Linked DNA regions of Homo sapiens: region 2 is linked to region 1. The links come from fine-mapping of genetic effects on plasma protein levels. A gene starts in region 1. The other region holds a variant in brackets. All regions are shown on one strand. Distances are between the middles of the regions. Region 1 holds the start of CLEC3B (C-type lectin domain family 3 member B). Region 2 overlaps EXOSC7 (exosome component 7).

The links. PIP is the chance, under the fine-mapping model, that this variant and not a neighbour inherited with it causes the effect. The UK Biobank Pharma Proteomics Project read protein levels with antibody pairs (Olink). The fine-mapping took linkage between variants from a reference panel, not from the people measured, so its PIPs are less certain.
Region 2: its variant is fine-mapped to the plasma level of the CLEC3B protein (UK Biobank, PIP 0.95).

Annotation. Positions count from the first base shown.
Region 1 is chr3:45,021,161-45,028,499 of GRCh38, forward strand. CLEC3B (C-type lectin domain family 3 member B) reads left to right here and starts at 5,143. Exons shown (of 3, transcript NM_003278.3): 1 at 5,143-5,311. The coding sequence starts at 5,203. RefSeq lists enhancers at 5,523-6,024, 6,025-6,524.
Region 2 is chr3:45,011,428-45,019,770 of GRCh38, forward strand. EXOSC7 (exosome component 7) reads left to right here. Exons shown (of 8, transcript NM_015004.4): 8 at 1-44. Among named protein-coding and RNA genes, the nearest start is that of CLEC3B, 11 kb to the right of the region's middle. RefSeq lists an enhancer at 667-786. The variant A/T (reference allele first, on the strand shown) is at 4,189.

The DNA of each region.
Region 1 (7,339 bases):
CTACATATCCAGCTTTATGTCTTCCCCACCCTGTCCTCATTGGCTCGGGATCTGGAATGCAAGGTGCTTTTGCTTGGCTCCAAGACTCTGCTTGTGTGTTTTCCACCTGGAGCCCTGTGCTCATTCCTTCCTCCCCTCAGCTGGCCACACCCTCTGTGTCCCTTCCTCAGCCTGAGGGCCACCTTCCTTCTGCCCTGCCCTGGCTGCATTCGGTGCCCTGTGAGACGCCACCACAGTCCCCATAGCTTCAACCATCAGCCAGCCCTGGAAAACATGGGGCCTCTGGTTGCCTCATGTTTAGAAAGCATACTTCGTTCATTTTCCTACCACTGAAGGGCCAAGATAGAGTTGGGCCAAGGTGAGAAAACCAAGAAAGCAAAGCAGTTAACAAAAATATTAATTTTCTTTTACCATCTGCTACCCACCCAGAGTTCCAGGAACAAGGCCCCTTTTAGGTTATGTAATCATCAGGCTCCAAATTGTCTCCCGAGGGCCCAGCTGTGAATATAAAACCCTTCCCACTCTGAGAATGTGAGAGGTGGAGCCCAGTGTCGTTGAGGGGCCGTGCAAATGCTCTGCTCCGTGCTCAGGGCCCCCACCCTTGGCAGGACTACTGTGCACTGGGCCAGCCCAGCTGGCCTCCTGCTTCCCTGGCCTACTACATAAGAGATCCCTCCCTAAGTCAGACAGGGGAAGGTGGGGTCCCTAGAAGGCAGGGAAAAGCCTGAAGTACATAGTATTGTATTTTCTTTTGGAAGAATCTCAAACTCAGAAAATTTGCAACGACAGTACAAAGAACATTCTCCCCCTGAACTATGTAAGTTGTCAACACAGTACCATATCGCTGTCTAATACTTCAGTATGTGTGTTTCCTACAGACAAAGACACTCTCCTACATAATCACAGCACACCATCAAGTAGGACCATAACAGGGATACCGTCATGCGTTGCTTAACAATGGGAATACGTTCTGAGAAATGCATTGTCAGGCGAGTTCATCGTTGTGCTACCATGACAGAGTGTACTTACACAAACCTAGGTGGCATAGCCTACTACACACCTAGGCTCTCAGGTATGGTATGTTGCTCCTAGGCTACAAACCTGTACAGCACGTGACTGCACTGAATACTGTAGGCAGTTGTAACATAATGGTAAGTATTTGTGTATCTCAACATAGAAAAAGTGGAGTAAAAATATGGTATAAAACAGCAGTCCCCAACCTTTTTGGCACCAGGGACTGGTTTCATGGAAGACAATTTTCCCACGGATGCGGGGTTGGGGTGATGGTTTCAGGATGAAACTGTTCCACCTCAGATCATTGGGCGTTAGATTCTCATAAGGAGTGTGCAACCTAGACCTTCTCATGCACAGTTCACAATAGGGCTTGTGCTCCCATGAGAATGTAATGCTGCTGCTGACCTGACAGGAGGCGGAGCTCAGGTGGTAATGCTCGCCTACCCACCACTCACCTCCTGCTGATGGGCCTAGTTGCTAACAGGCCACGGACCAGTACTGTGGACCAGTACTGGTCCATAGCCTGGAGGTTGGGGACTCCTGATATAAAAGATAAAGAAAATGATACACTGGTATAGGGCACTTACCATGAATGGAGCTTGCAGGACTGGAAGTTGCTCTGAGTGAGTCAGTGAGTGGTGAGTGAACGTGGACATTACTGTACACTACTCTGGACTCTATAAAACACTGCACACATAAGCTGCATTACATTTTTTTAAAAAATGGTTTTCTTTTTTAATAATAAATTAACCTGAGCTTACCATAACTTTTTTTACTTTGTAAACTTTTGAACTCATTTAACTTTTTTACTTTTATAACATTTAGCTTAAAACACAAACACATTGAACAGTTGTACAAAATTATTTTCTCTATATCCTTATTCTATAGGCTTTTTCTAGTTATTATTACTTTTTTACTTTTTAAACTTTTTGTTAAAAACTAAGACACAAACGCACATTAGCCCATGCCTACACAGGGTCAGGATTATCAGTGTCACTGTCTTCCACCTCCACCTCTTGTCTCAGTGGGAGGTCTTCAGGGACAGTCACACACATGGAGCTATCATATCCTATGATAACAGTGCCTTCTTCTGGAAAACCTCCTGATGGACCCACCTTAGGCTGTTTCACAGTTAACTTTTTTAAAAAAAAAGTAGAAAGAGTACACTCTAAAATAATGATAAAAAGTATAGCACAGTAAATACATAAACCAGTGACACGGTCATTTATTATCATCGTATTAGTTCATTCTCGCACTGCTATAAAGAACTGCCCAAGAATGGGTAATTTAGAAAGGAAAGAGGTTTAATTGACTCACAGTTCTGCATGGCTGGGGAGGCCTCAGGAAACTAATAATCATGGTGGAAGGCAAAGGAGAAGCAGACACCTTCTTCACATGGCAGCAGGACAGAGTGAGTACAAGCAGGGGAAATGCCAGATGCTTATAAAACCATCAGATCTCATGAGACTCACTATCACGAGAACAGCATGGGAGAAACTTGCCCCCATGGTTCAATGACCTCCACCTGGTCTTTCCCATGACACATGGGGATTATGAGGATTACAATTCAAGGTGAGATTTTGGGTGGGGACACAGCCAAGCCATATCATTCCACCCCGGCCCCTCCCAAATCTCATGCTCTCACATTTCAAAGCACAATCATGTGGGGCAGAATGATATGGTTTGACTATGTTCTCACCCAAATTCTTATCTTGAATTGTAATCCTCATAATGCCCATGTGTCAAGGGAGAGACCAGGTGGAGGTCATTGAACGATGGGGGTGGTTTCCCCCATGCTGTCCTTGTGATAGTGAGTTCTCATGAGATCTTATGGTTTTATAAGTGTTTGGCAGTTCCTCCTGCATTCATTGTACCTCCTGCCTCCTTGCGAAGAAGGTGTTTGTTTCCCCTTCACCTTCTGCCACAATTGTAAATTTCCTGAGGCCTCCCCAGCCGTGTGGAACTGTAAATCAATTAAACCTCTTTCCTTTCTAAATTACCCAGTCTTGGGCAGTTCTTTAGAGTAGTGTGAAAACGGACTAACAAAATCAAGTATTATGTGCTAACATGACCTTATATGCTCTACTTCGATATGACTGGCAGTAAATTTGTTTACACCAGCATCACCACAAACTTGGGAATAATGAGTTGCACTATGACTTTACAACCCTTTGTGACATCACTAGGTGTTAGGAATTTTTCTGCCCCATTATAATCTTATGGAAGCATATCACATATGTGGCCTGTTGTTGACTGAACTGTCATGATGCAGCATGTGACAACACATCACTGCCGTGTGCTCCTCAGACCCCATCAGATTTCTCTGGTTGTCCCAACTGCATCCTTGAGAATGGAGGGTCCAGTCCAGAATCACATATTGCATTTAGTTCTGTGTCTTCAGTCTCCTTCAGCCTGAAACACTTCCTCAGCCAGGAGCTTTGAAAATTACTGGCAGTCATTTTGCAGAATGCTCCTCCATTTGGGATTGTCTGATGTCTCTCTGGCCGGAGTCCTATGGAGTGATGCCACATTCTCACTGCAGCCCCCCAGGTGCTGCAAGCTTTTTATTGGCCCTGTTGATGTTTACTTTGGTCACAGATGAGGTGATGTCTGCCAGCCTTCTTCACCATGAAGTTGCTCTTTTTCTCTCTGGAATGGATAAGTGTTTTGTGGGCAGATACTTTGAGGCTATGTAAACATCCCATTGAAGAACATCAGACTTTCAATGCGTTCCCTTACTTACTTATATCTGTGTGCACTGGTGGTTTCCCATCTGTTACTGTCACTATGTTGGTGCTCAAATTGTCCCTGATTCTGACCACTGAAGGCTCCTTCAAGCTGGCTCTGTGTCCTACTGACGTGTTCCCATTATTCATTAAGCACTTCCTTGTTTTCTGGCAAAACAACAAGTTCCGGGCTCATTTTCTGCACCCCACTCCTACTTCCCAGTGCTAGAATCAGCCGTTTCTGCAAGGTGCTCTGGTTCCTTTAGTGGAAAGTCATATTCAGAAGCCAGTATTCAGGTGCTAGGAGTGCTCCAGGCTATGCGGGGCTGGCTGCTCCAGGCCCCCCAGTGACTGTGGGGACTAGACACACACACATTTCCATCTATATATATGGACTTATCTTTATGTATTCAAGGCCACAAGGGTACACTGATCATTCCGATTTTAATCCCACACAACAGGATTCATTCCAGTTTTCTCTCCATATACATAACTTCCTTCTCTGACAATAGGAAACCTAACTCCCACTGTCTTCAGTAGATTTATTTGATCAGTATCCCTGTGTGTAACCAATCTCCCGTCTCTGCCACCAGCCTCTCTCCCACATGGATCCCCTCCTTGCCTCACTTGGACTCCAGCACTCCAGGCAGGGCCTTTGCTTTCCCCAGGATGCTCCCTCCACCCTGCTGGGCTCCCACACCCCACACCAGTCCACCCCTTGAGGGCACATTCTCCCCACATCCTCTCTGGTACCTCTGGGGCACGATGGCTTCTCCCTCCGCCACCTTTGCTATGCCCCACTTTGTGGCTTTAGGACAGGACTCAGGAGAAAGGGAAGACAAGAAGGGAAGGAATCCCTTGGATTTTTTAACCAAAAAATGCATCAAGTACATGGAGACAGAGCCACAAAATAATCATAACAAATATTCTAAACCAATCAGACAGCCAGCCCCAGATCACCCTATAAGGGGGCATTGCTACCCCGTGACAGCTGGGTAGCCTGGGCAAATTCCCTAACCTCACCGAGCCTCAATTTCCTCAATGGTAAAATGGGGAAAGGACAGTGCTTCCCTCGTGGTTTGGGTGTGAAGCTTCTGTGAGTTAATGTTAGTGAACAGCCAGCCTCAGCCCCTACCCAAGGTAGCTGCTCCGCAGATGTGATGACAACCACCGTGTGTTTCTCAGAATCCTAGGAAATAAGGGCTTCTTTCTAGAAGGCAGGGCCAGGATGCTGCGTGGGTGTTCCCTGGCAGAGAGGCTCTGTGGCCCTCAGGACTTCATCCTTCTGCAGGCTTGTGTGTTTGTTTTATTTTTTTGGCACGCCTGCAGCCAAGTTGGGGAGGGTTTCCTGGACAGAGGTCCTTTGGCTGCTGCCTTAAGACGTGCAGCCTGGGCCGTGGCTGTCACTGCGTTCGGACCCAGACCCGCTGCAGGCAGCAGCAGCCCCCGCCCGCGCAGCAGCATGGAGCTCTGGGGGGCCTACCTCCTCCTCTGCCTCTTCTCCCTCCTGACCCAGGTCACCACCGAGCCACCAACCCAGAAGCCCAAGAAGATTGTAAATGCCAAGAAAGGTAAGGAGGGGGACAGAGCCCTGTGCCATCTTCCAGGGAGCAGGTCCCCCTCTCCTTAGTGTGTCCTCATGCTCCTTTCCTTCATTTTCCTCCTTTTGAGTCATCTAGGGAACTTGAGTAAAGTGGGCTTTGGGGCTTGGGGGAGTTCTCTCATAGCAGAGTTGGTTGTCAGAATCATAAGAATCCCTGACCCTTAGAGTTGGGAAGAACCTTCCAGATCATCCAAACTGATCTTTGCTCTTCTCTCCTCCCCTCATCCCCAATATTTTAAAGAAACCAAACCTTTGGCCTGGGAGTCTGGCAGCGCTCAGCCCTTACCAGGGAGAGCTGCACAGGCTGGGCTTTGGAGTCTTCCAACCTGTTTTCTCAACTGTAAAATGGGGACAGTGGTATTTGTTCAAAGACTTCTCATGAAGATTTTATGATACAAAATATATAAAGGCACCTCACTTGTTGCTTGATGCACAGGGAAAAGAAAAAGAAGAAGAAATGAATTCTCATTTCTGTAGCATATCACAGCCTTCAGGAAATAAATGTAACTCAGACTAGTCCACCAGAAGCAGCTTTGCTCTGCTTTGTAGCCTCTGGGGATTGGGGTGTCCCTCGGTTGCTTTGGCTACAGCAAGACTTGCCCTTGCAGCCCCGCCTGCAGTGAGGTCACCCCAGGCTGTGTTGAGACAACATCAGTGGAATGTCATGGCAATGGACGGGGCTGTCACCCCCCCAGGGAGCAGAGGCTAGAAGAGAGTCCAAGGGGATGAGGGTGGGGACTGAGGCAGAGAAACAAGCAGCTAGGACCAAGGGCACAGAAAAGGAAAGAAGGGGCTGTGGGGGCCTCCCTTAGGCCCTCCCGGGGCTCTTCATAAATGGACAGTTGCCCACTGGCCAGGAACTAGTGCAGTGCATAAAGGGACATCGGGGCCATGGGGCCTCACAACACTGTGACAAAGAATGGGGCAAATCTGGCTGCTGATAAAAAAATCATCTTCAAGATTCAGTTTACAAAGTGAAAAAAGAAACATTCAAAAGAGAATGAGTATGATGCTGACATTTGCTTTGAAAAAGGGATTTATATAATAATACATTTTTACTTGTATGTGCATAAGTTCTTTCTGGAAGGATCCACAAGAGTGAGTAACAGTGATTACCTCTGGGAAGAAAAACCAGGGGCTGGGCGCAGTCTCAACTGGGAAAGAAACCAGCTTTTTGAACTGTTTGGATTTTAAAAAATTATGTGTGTATATTACCTTCCACAAAATGTTCATTTAAAAAGAGAAGACAATACCGTGCATAGTTACGTCTATGAGCATTAGCCAAAATCGCCACCAAGGGAGAGCCTTTGTAAAAGATGCAGCTCCAAAGGCAAATCATAGAATTTTTGAATGTGGAAAACCATCGCCAGCTTCTCAAGTTTACCAAAGATTCAGTATTAATATAATTATGTAAATCTTTTTAAACTCATGTTAAAAAAAAAAGGGTCAGAGCACGTGATGCCTTGGTTCTCTCCAGCTGTCACACTTGAACCCTGGCCCTATGTGGTCTCCATAGAAGGGGCCCCTGGAGTTCCAGGGCTACAGGCCAACAGAACAGCCACCCAGGCCCTGCCTCTCGCTGAAACCCATGGCAGTCTCCCGCCCACCAACATGGCAGGCACTTATAGAGCTCTTTCTCCACGTAGGCACCAGTCTATATGCTGGACACACAGCAGAGAAACACCGTCTCTGCTCTTAAGACATGAACCATGGTGGTTCTCACTCAGGCATCAACATCATCTGGGAGATACATTAGAATCCAGGTGCCTTGGCCAGGCGTGGTGGCTCAAGCCTGTAATCTCAGCACTTTAGGAGGCCAAGGTGGGAGGATCGCTTGAGGCCAGGAGTTCAAGACAAGTCTGGCCAACATGGTGAAACCCTGTCTCTACTAAAAATACAAAAATTAGCTGAGTGTGATGGTGTACACGTGTAGTCCCAGCTACTCAGGAGGCTGAGGCAGGAGAATTGCTTGAACCTGGGAGGTGGAGGTTGCAAT
Region 2 (8,343 bases), 9.2 kb before region 1:
ACAGCAGCATTTGTACATGTAAAATTAAAGGCTATTTTCTGGTCTGGTTTGGTATGTCTAGAGTTCTTCAGTTGAAGCCAAGGCACCATTCAGTGACCCATCTGGGTCTGGCCCTTATCTAGTGAGTGGCAGACAAATCCAGAGCTCTGCCACCAAGGGAGACCCCCACAAGCTGGAGTAAAGACCTGACAGAAACTGGTTTACAGGAAATGCTTATGATATGTATTTTGTGAATTTTTTTCCCCTTGAAGAACTTTAAAAATAAGAATCACAAAGAAAAGTTCATTCACCTTGTGTATTTGGGTGGTTCTGGGAGAGGAAAAAAGAGGAGGCACTCTGCTGCAGGTACACACCCAGGGCGTCTGTCTGTCTGGTTAGCCATCCCAAATCCTGGGAAAGTCCAGCTCTGACTTCCTGCCCTCCAAGAGATCCGAATGGAATTCCCTAGGTTCAGGGGCTTTAGTGGCAGCCACTTTGGCCCTTAGCCATCCTTTCTTATCACTCTTGTTTTGAAATTGCTTTGTGTTTTATAACCACTCCCTGGTGTTTCCTAAGATTTTGTTTTGTCAGCATTAAGAAGGCAGCTTTCAAGATGTTGTCATTTGATAATTCAGCTGCCTTCATGCTCTCAGCATTGAAAGGAAGACTATGCTTGCTGGCCCAGAAGGCTCTTCCTATAAGCCTGTAGTCTCACTGTGCAGTGTGTTAAAATTAAGTCTCTTCATGTGTAGAGCAGCCTTTGTTTTTTTTTCTAGGGGAACTGAAACTCCTAAATCTTAAAACACCCTGGGGAAGGAGCTGATTCACGAAGGAGAGCGTTTCAACCGTGGCATTTGCTCTCTGCATTCCAGTTAGCAAATGGGGTAAGGCGTTAGGAATTTATCACCAAATGGAAAGAACATAATGTGAGCTGAAGCCCTTGGGACTGCTTCCAGAGGTCCTGGTGTGGGCGTTCCTCCCAGCAAGGCCAGGTCCATCCCTGTGGAGAGAAGCAGCTGCCTAGACTTGGGCTTAATGGGGGAGCTTCTGCCCTGTTGAGAGCATAGCCTGGGTTTTCATCTTTTATGTTTCTTCAGTGACTATCTACAGGCACCATGACAGTGTTCCCAACAAGGCAGAAATCAGCCTGGTCTCTCCTTCCCTGCTCCTGGTTGACTGCCCGTGACATGACAAAACATTGGCAGTGGTGGCGCAGAGATGCAACTCGAGTGTGAATAAAGTTTAGAAGCATTTGCTTTTGATGGTTGATTCCAGTGGATCATTTTGAGATGCATAAATTAGAATGGGTACTGTCATATATGTCAGACTCAGCTCTGCTTCACTTCCCTTCAGACAGACAGATGAGGCTTTGCCATGCCAGTGGTATGACAAGCAGCTACCAGCTTGGATGGCTGGCTAAGCACTTCCAGTAAAAATGGAGAAAGAAGAGAAAAAGATGGTGGAATCTGTTTCTAGCCACCCCATACCTTTCCCTGAAGGCCACCCCTACATGTAATATACGTATATTGCAAATGAAACAAAACACCATATGAGCAGGGACTCTCCAGGAGAGGCATTTATTGGAAAGATCTGATTGTTGCAACTGTCAGAGTGAGAGAAGAGAAAACTGAAGACAGAGACTGGCAAAGACTTGGAAAAATATTATCCTGGGACAGACCTGTTTGATCCAGCAGAGCCACAGCTGTCTTTAGTGGTCTTTAAATAAACATTAGGTAGAAGAACATTGAAGTTGGTCAAAGTAAGGGCGGAGTATAAGAAATGCAATGTTAAATAATATTCAAGTGGGTTTTTGTCTCTGATTCTTTAGTCTTCCAAATCACGAGTTAATTTTTTTTCTTTTCTTTGTTCTTAGAGATAGGGTCTCACTCTGTCACCGAGGCTGGAATGCAATGGTGCAATCATAGCTCATTGCAGCCTCAAACTCCTGGGCTCATGTGATCTTCCCACCTTCCTGGGACTGCAGGCATGCCACCATGCCCAGCAAATTATTTTTTTAAAATGAGGGTCTCACTATGTTGCCCAGGCTGGTCTTGAGCTCCTGGCCTCAAGCAATCCTCCTGCCTTGGCCTCCTAAAGTGCTGGGATTACAGGTATGAGCCACTGCACTGGGACATGAGTTTAGATTTTTTTCTCGTTGTTGAGACGGAGTCTCGTTCTTTTGCCAGGCTGGAGTGCAGTGGCGTGATCTCACCCACTGCAGTCTCTGCCTCTCGGGTTCAAGCGATTCCCCTGCCTCACCCTACTGAGTAGCTGGGACTACAGGCGTGCACCACCACACCTGGGTAATTTTTTTTATTTTATTAGAGACAGGGTTTCACCATGTTGGCCAGGATGGTCTTGATCTCCTGACCTTGTGATCCGCCTGCCTCGGCCTCCCAATGTGCTGGGATTACAAGCGTGAGCCACAGCACCTGGCCGAGTTTAGAATATTAACAGTAGTTTGTTTGCTCAGTAAAGCCAGTTGTCTAACATACAAACTGCCAGTAGAGAATAAGTCTTCGCTATTCCAGACTTTTTGGAAAACAATCTGGCAGTGTGCATTAAAAGCCTTAAAAGACCGGGTGTGGTGACTCACGCCTGTAATCCCAGCACTTTGGGAGGCTGAGGTGGGCGGATCATGAGGTCAAGAGATCGAGACCATCCTGGCCAACATGGTGAAACCCATCTCTATTAAAAATACAAAAATTGGCATGGTGGCACACGCCTGTAATCCCAGCTACTTGGGAGGCTGAGGCAGGAGAATTGCTTGAACCCAGGAGGTGGAGGTTGCCGTGAGCCAAGATCGCGCCACTGCACTCCAGCCTGGCTACAGAGCGAGACTCCTTCTCAACAAAAAGCCTTAAAAATGTTTGCCCTTTGACCTAGTAATTCTACTTCTGGGCATGTAATCAAAGTAAATAATTTATGATACAAGGGGAGTGGAAACATTAATACAGAGGAGTTTATCCCAGTGTTATTTATACATCCCAAATAATGGCCATAAAGTAACTGCTAGTTAGTGGGGAAACAATGTTCCATGCATTGCTAGATGCCTCTGATGGATTACCTTCTGTCCTCAGCCTCGCCTCTGCCTCTACGGCAGTCAGACCGTAGCTAATAGATTATGTGTTCTGAGGGTTAAGACATGGGCAGCCAATCAGGATTTTACTCAACTTGTCAAAATTAAAAATAATAATAATTGGAGCATAAAAAGCTTATGTCAACCACTATAATGGGAAATTCCAGTCCTTCACCCAGTTTCCGTAAGCCAGTTCACAGATCAAAGTCCATTGACAGGAGGGAGGTTGGTGTCTTTAAATAAGAATCCTGTAATATCACCATCAGCACCTACAATAATAGTTCTCCAGTCTGGAATACCAGCATTGAGGAAAGGTGATTTGAAGCCTTTTGAATCTGGGTTTTGACTTGATGCCTGTATTAGGAGACCTGAAATGCCACCAAGGCTCTCCAGTCAAAGGGGATGGGGGATGGAGGCTAGGTAATAAATGGATGGTACAAGTAAGTCTGGCTCACAATGGTCATTAGGTCCTGGGATAATTTCCTTCCCCAAATGTGTAGGTGGGATGGATGTGGTACAATTGAGATGTCATAAATGGGATGGAATGAAAACCACAATGGTAAGAAGGGTCAAGGTTGGAAACTGCCTCCCTTCCCTGGCCAAGATAATAAATCAGAGACAATATTGGATCTTGGGAGAAATTGCAGAGATTAGGACCAACATCAAAGACTTTAAGGATGCAAGGGTAGTTGTCCCCGCCTCATTGCCATTTATCTTATCTCTGTGGCCCCTGTAAAAGCCAGGTGAATCATGGTAGATGACCACCAAACACACGAGAGAGCTCCAATTTCCACTGCTTTGTTGGATGAAGTATCTTCACTAAGATTAATCAGCACAGCCTCCAATGCTTCGTATGTGGCTATAAGTTAGGAAAATTCTTCCTTAATCCCCATTAACAAGAAGGGTCAAAAGCAGATCTCTTATGTGGAAGGACTGCAAAATGTGTTCAGTGTCTTGTCAGCGGTCTATGTTAATCACCTACTTTTTGTCACAGTGATATCTTCAGGGCCATCGCGCTGATCTATTTATGTTGATAAAATCATGTTTATTAGATCTAGTACATAGGACGTGGAAAGCCGTTGGAAGTCCTAGTAAAAGACACATGCCTGAGAGGGTGGGAAATAAACCCC[A/T]TGAAGATTAAGGAGACCACCACACTGATAATGTTTTTAGGTATCCAGTGGTGTGGGGCATTCTGAGAGATACCCCCTCTAAGGTGGTAGATTTTGAACCTTGCACCCACCCTCATCCCCACTACCCTCACTGAGAAGTACAGCACTTGTTGGGCCTCTGGATTTTGGAGACAAGAATGCTGTACTTGAGAATGCTGTCTCAATGCATTTATTGAGTAATTCACAAACCTACCAGTTGTGAATGGGAGTCCAGAATAAGACAGGACTCTGAAGCCTGTTTAAGCTGCATTACAAGCATCCCTCCTGCTCCATGTGACCCAGAAATTCCAACGGAGCTAGTGCTATCTGGGGCAGGTAAGGGTGCTGTGTAGTTTCTGGCAGGCCCAACAGGAACGTTGTAGCACAGACCCTAGGATTCTGGAGCAAGGCCATGTGGTGGAAAGCTATTCACCTCCAAATGAGTGAGTTTGAAAAGAAGTTTCTGGCTTGCCACTGGGCCCAATTAGAGACTGAATACCCAACCCTGGGACCTCAAGTGACCTGAGCCACCCATCATGCTGGTTATTGTCAGACCCACCAGGTCATAAGTTTGGGTGGGTGCAGCAACAATCCATGCAACATGAAAATGTACATTCAGGATTAGGCCTGAGCAGTTCAGTGGGCACAACCAAGGAATATACCAGGTAGCCCAGATTCGTCTGTCACCCCTGTTCGCCAGTGCCTCTCATCCACACTTATGACCTCATGGGGGAGGGGACTCCTGCAGCCAGCTACTGGAAGAGGAAAACCCCAGGTCTGCCTTGTGGATGAGTTGGTTCTCTATATTGATGTGTGCCCCAAAGGGACTGCTCCTGCATTACAGCCCTGCAGGACAGCAGTGAGAGAACTGAGTGCAGCCAGTGCACTTGGTTGTTAAGTTTGCACAAAGGGATAAGGGTACACGTGGATTCCCGGATAGTAGGGAGTAACTTGGCTAGTTGGACAAGGGCCTGAAAGGAGTAAGATGGGATGATCAGAGAAAAGGGATTTGTATGGACCTGTGGGAATGGGCCAAAAAAAGCGCAGATAGTCGGGAATCGTGTTAATGCCCATCAGAGGACATTTTCCAAGGGAGGTGTTCAACAAGTGTTTTGACTTCAGTTCTGGGTAGGATATGTAGGTCATGGTGGACCACCATTCATGCTGCTGCAGCTAAAAATGCTGAATGCATTTCAAGAGTCATATCATTAAAGATTTTGGGAAGCTCTGGAAGTAAAGAGGATTTCATGGCCTAAAATTCCAGAGAAGGGGGAGACTTTCTGAAGTGAGCAGGCTGTCACTGGCATTTCCTTCCCTGGGGGCATTTGCAGATTCTGGACGTGGAATAAGAATCAGGCTTGGGAACATAGAGGAACTCTACCGGGGAAAGGGAAACCTGCAAAACCTCCAGCAAAGCTGTGTAGGGATAGTGTGATGATTTAGAAACTCAAAGATCCCTAAACACACAGCTGGGTTTATATTTGCCAAATTCTCAGACATGATGGGAAGTCAGGGAGTTTCAGCTAAAGAAGATTGAAATCTCCTGTAGCATTCTATAGGGCTATCTGTTTTTCTCCTCTTGTGTGAACTATTATAGCTGAGGGCATCAGGTAAGTGCATGCCCAGTTTATTATTCCCAAAGTTACAAATCAGGTGATTAAGTTACTGTCCCTTGGAGTGGAAGGAATCGAGGTGTGGAAAGAGGCTATCAAGCTCCTTGACACACTGGGACAGCGTGGTGGCTCAGACCACCCCTCCTCCTTCCCACAACCTTGCAGGTTGCTCAGCTGTCTCCCATGCGAGACCTCAGTTTGCTCCTTGAAAGAATCCCATGTGCAAGCAGGGTAGAGATTATTACCCCACTTTACAGAAGAGGAGTTTGGTCTTGAGTAACTCATCCAAAACGACACAAGTGCCAGGTATCTCAACCAAATTTGGAACTCGGGACTCCATTCTCTTTCCACTGCCACACTACAGAGCTTTAAGGATAAAACAACAAGGACTGTGAGCCCCTTGAGAGCTAAGATTTGGTTGAGTTAGGACCTACCTAACTCAGGGCCCGGTACACAGGGACAGAGCCAATACTTGAATGAATGACAGAGTACTAGGCCAACAAAGTTTTTTTTTTTTTTTTTCTTAGAGACAGGGTCTTGCTCTGTTTTCCAGGCTGGAGTGCAGTAGTATGATCATAGTTCACGGCAGCCTCCATCTCCTGGGCTCAAACAATCCTCCCAGCTCTGCCTGCCAAAGAGTTGGGATTACATGTGTGAGCCCCTGCACCAGGCTGTCTATATGCTCTTACCTTTGAAGGGCATGTGGAAAGTTCTCTGCCTCTGTTATAGCCGGGCCACATTTCTGTTGACATGGGGCCAGTGGAACTAAAAGGAAACATCTGTGCCGGGTGAGGGTTGCGGGTGGGGTAGGGGGCTGGAATGGCTCCATGGTGGGCCAGAAGTTTGCATGTTATTCGGGCTAATATGGGTGGAGTGACCAAAGCCTGTTTTGTATAACTGAGACTTCCAGCAGCTTTGAGAAAAGAAACAACACCACCACACACACAAAAAAACCTTGAAAGCTGAAATATGCCTTTAGAGCTCTCTTCCTCTGATTTTTTTTGCCTGTTTTGTTATTAAGATCATTCTTTGTACAGGGAGATTAGTATGAAAAGACTGGGCTGTGAGAGTGGTGTGTTAGTGAACAGACACTTCCTTGAGGGTTGGGGTCGCTCATGAACATTAATGCAGCATCACTGTCTTGGCTGAAGCCACCCCCACTTGCCGCGCCATGGGCCAGTTGAGGTCTTGTGGACAGTGTCAGCAGATCTTTAATGCAAGGAAGATGAAACTGATATCATCTTCCATATGTAGAAGGTAAAATTGGCTCCACCAGGGCTATCGGTGAATCCATTGCAGGTGGCTGCAATGGCAGTCCACACCTGGCCAGGGAGAGTTGGGGGTGGACAAGAGGATCTGGATATTTAATGGCCATAAACTCAACAGTGGCAACAAATGAGGCCCAGGTGCTACAAAGAGCCCATGAATCTGTGGCTTCCTGAATAGAGGGTCTAGTCTGCTCACAGGAGGCACTTGCCCTGGCCCAGAGGAAGGCCCGTGAAAGCAAGTTTTGTTCTGGGATCTGCACCACAATGAAGACCATAACAAGCACAGTTTTATGCAGTGAGGATTCTCTGGAAGATTGAAGTAGATTGAAATCTGTAGCATCCAGGAACCATATTGTAGAGGATCCATTGAGAAGAAAAAAGGAACGGAACATGGAGAAAGGACAGTCAAAGAAGGACAGGCTGGCCTCTCATGTGACTGCTCCACAGGCCAGCACTAGGAACCATGGGGTGGTTTCCCGGAGGCCAACCTGCCCCACCACAGGGGGATCCTGAGGACAAGCCAAGTGTCTAACGATGAAACTAGTTGCTTTTCAGGTAATGAGCTTCCTGTTCCTGGAAGGGTTTAAGCAACATATGGAGACATCTGACAGGGTCAATGGAAAGGGACATCCCACATCGAGGGGTGGTTAGACTAGATGGCCTCTTCTAACCTGCTTATTAACTCAGAGATCAAGAGTTATTGAACCCCTGCCCTTTTTTTTTTTTTTTAAAGGTAGGGTCTCCCTCTGTCATCCAGGCTGGAGTGGTGCAGTGGTGTGATCATGGCTCACTGCAGCCTCAACCTCCTGAGTTCAAGTGATCCTTCCACCTCAGCCTCCAGAGTACCTGGCTCTACAGGTGCATGCCACCACATCTGGCTTTTTTTAAATTATTATTATTTTGTAGAGATGGGGTCTCCCTATGTTCCCCAGACAGGTCTTGAATGCCCGGCCTCTATTGATCCTCCTGCCTTGGCCTCTCAGAGTGCTGGGATTTTGATTATAAGCATAAGCCACCGCTTCTGGCCAGTTTGCATTTTTTGAGGACCACTGAAGCAATAAAAAAATGATGAAATGCCCAAACCAGGTTACGAAAAATAGAGATGTACTTTAAATGTTTACATTTAATGAAATAGCACTTTTCACACCCACAGATATGACACAGGACAATATTCTATTCACAAGAGAGAATTCATTATTTATTTATTTTACCAATTGCCTTGGGTGATTCTATTTTTGCATTATTACAACTTTTTA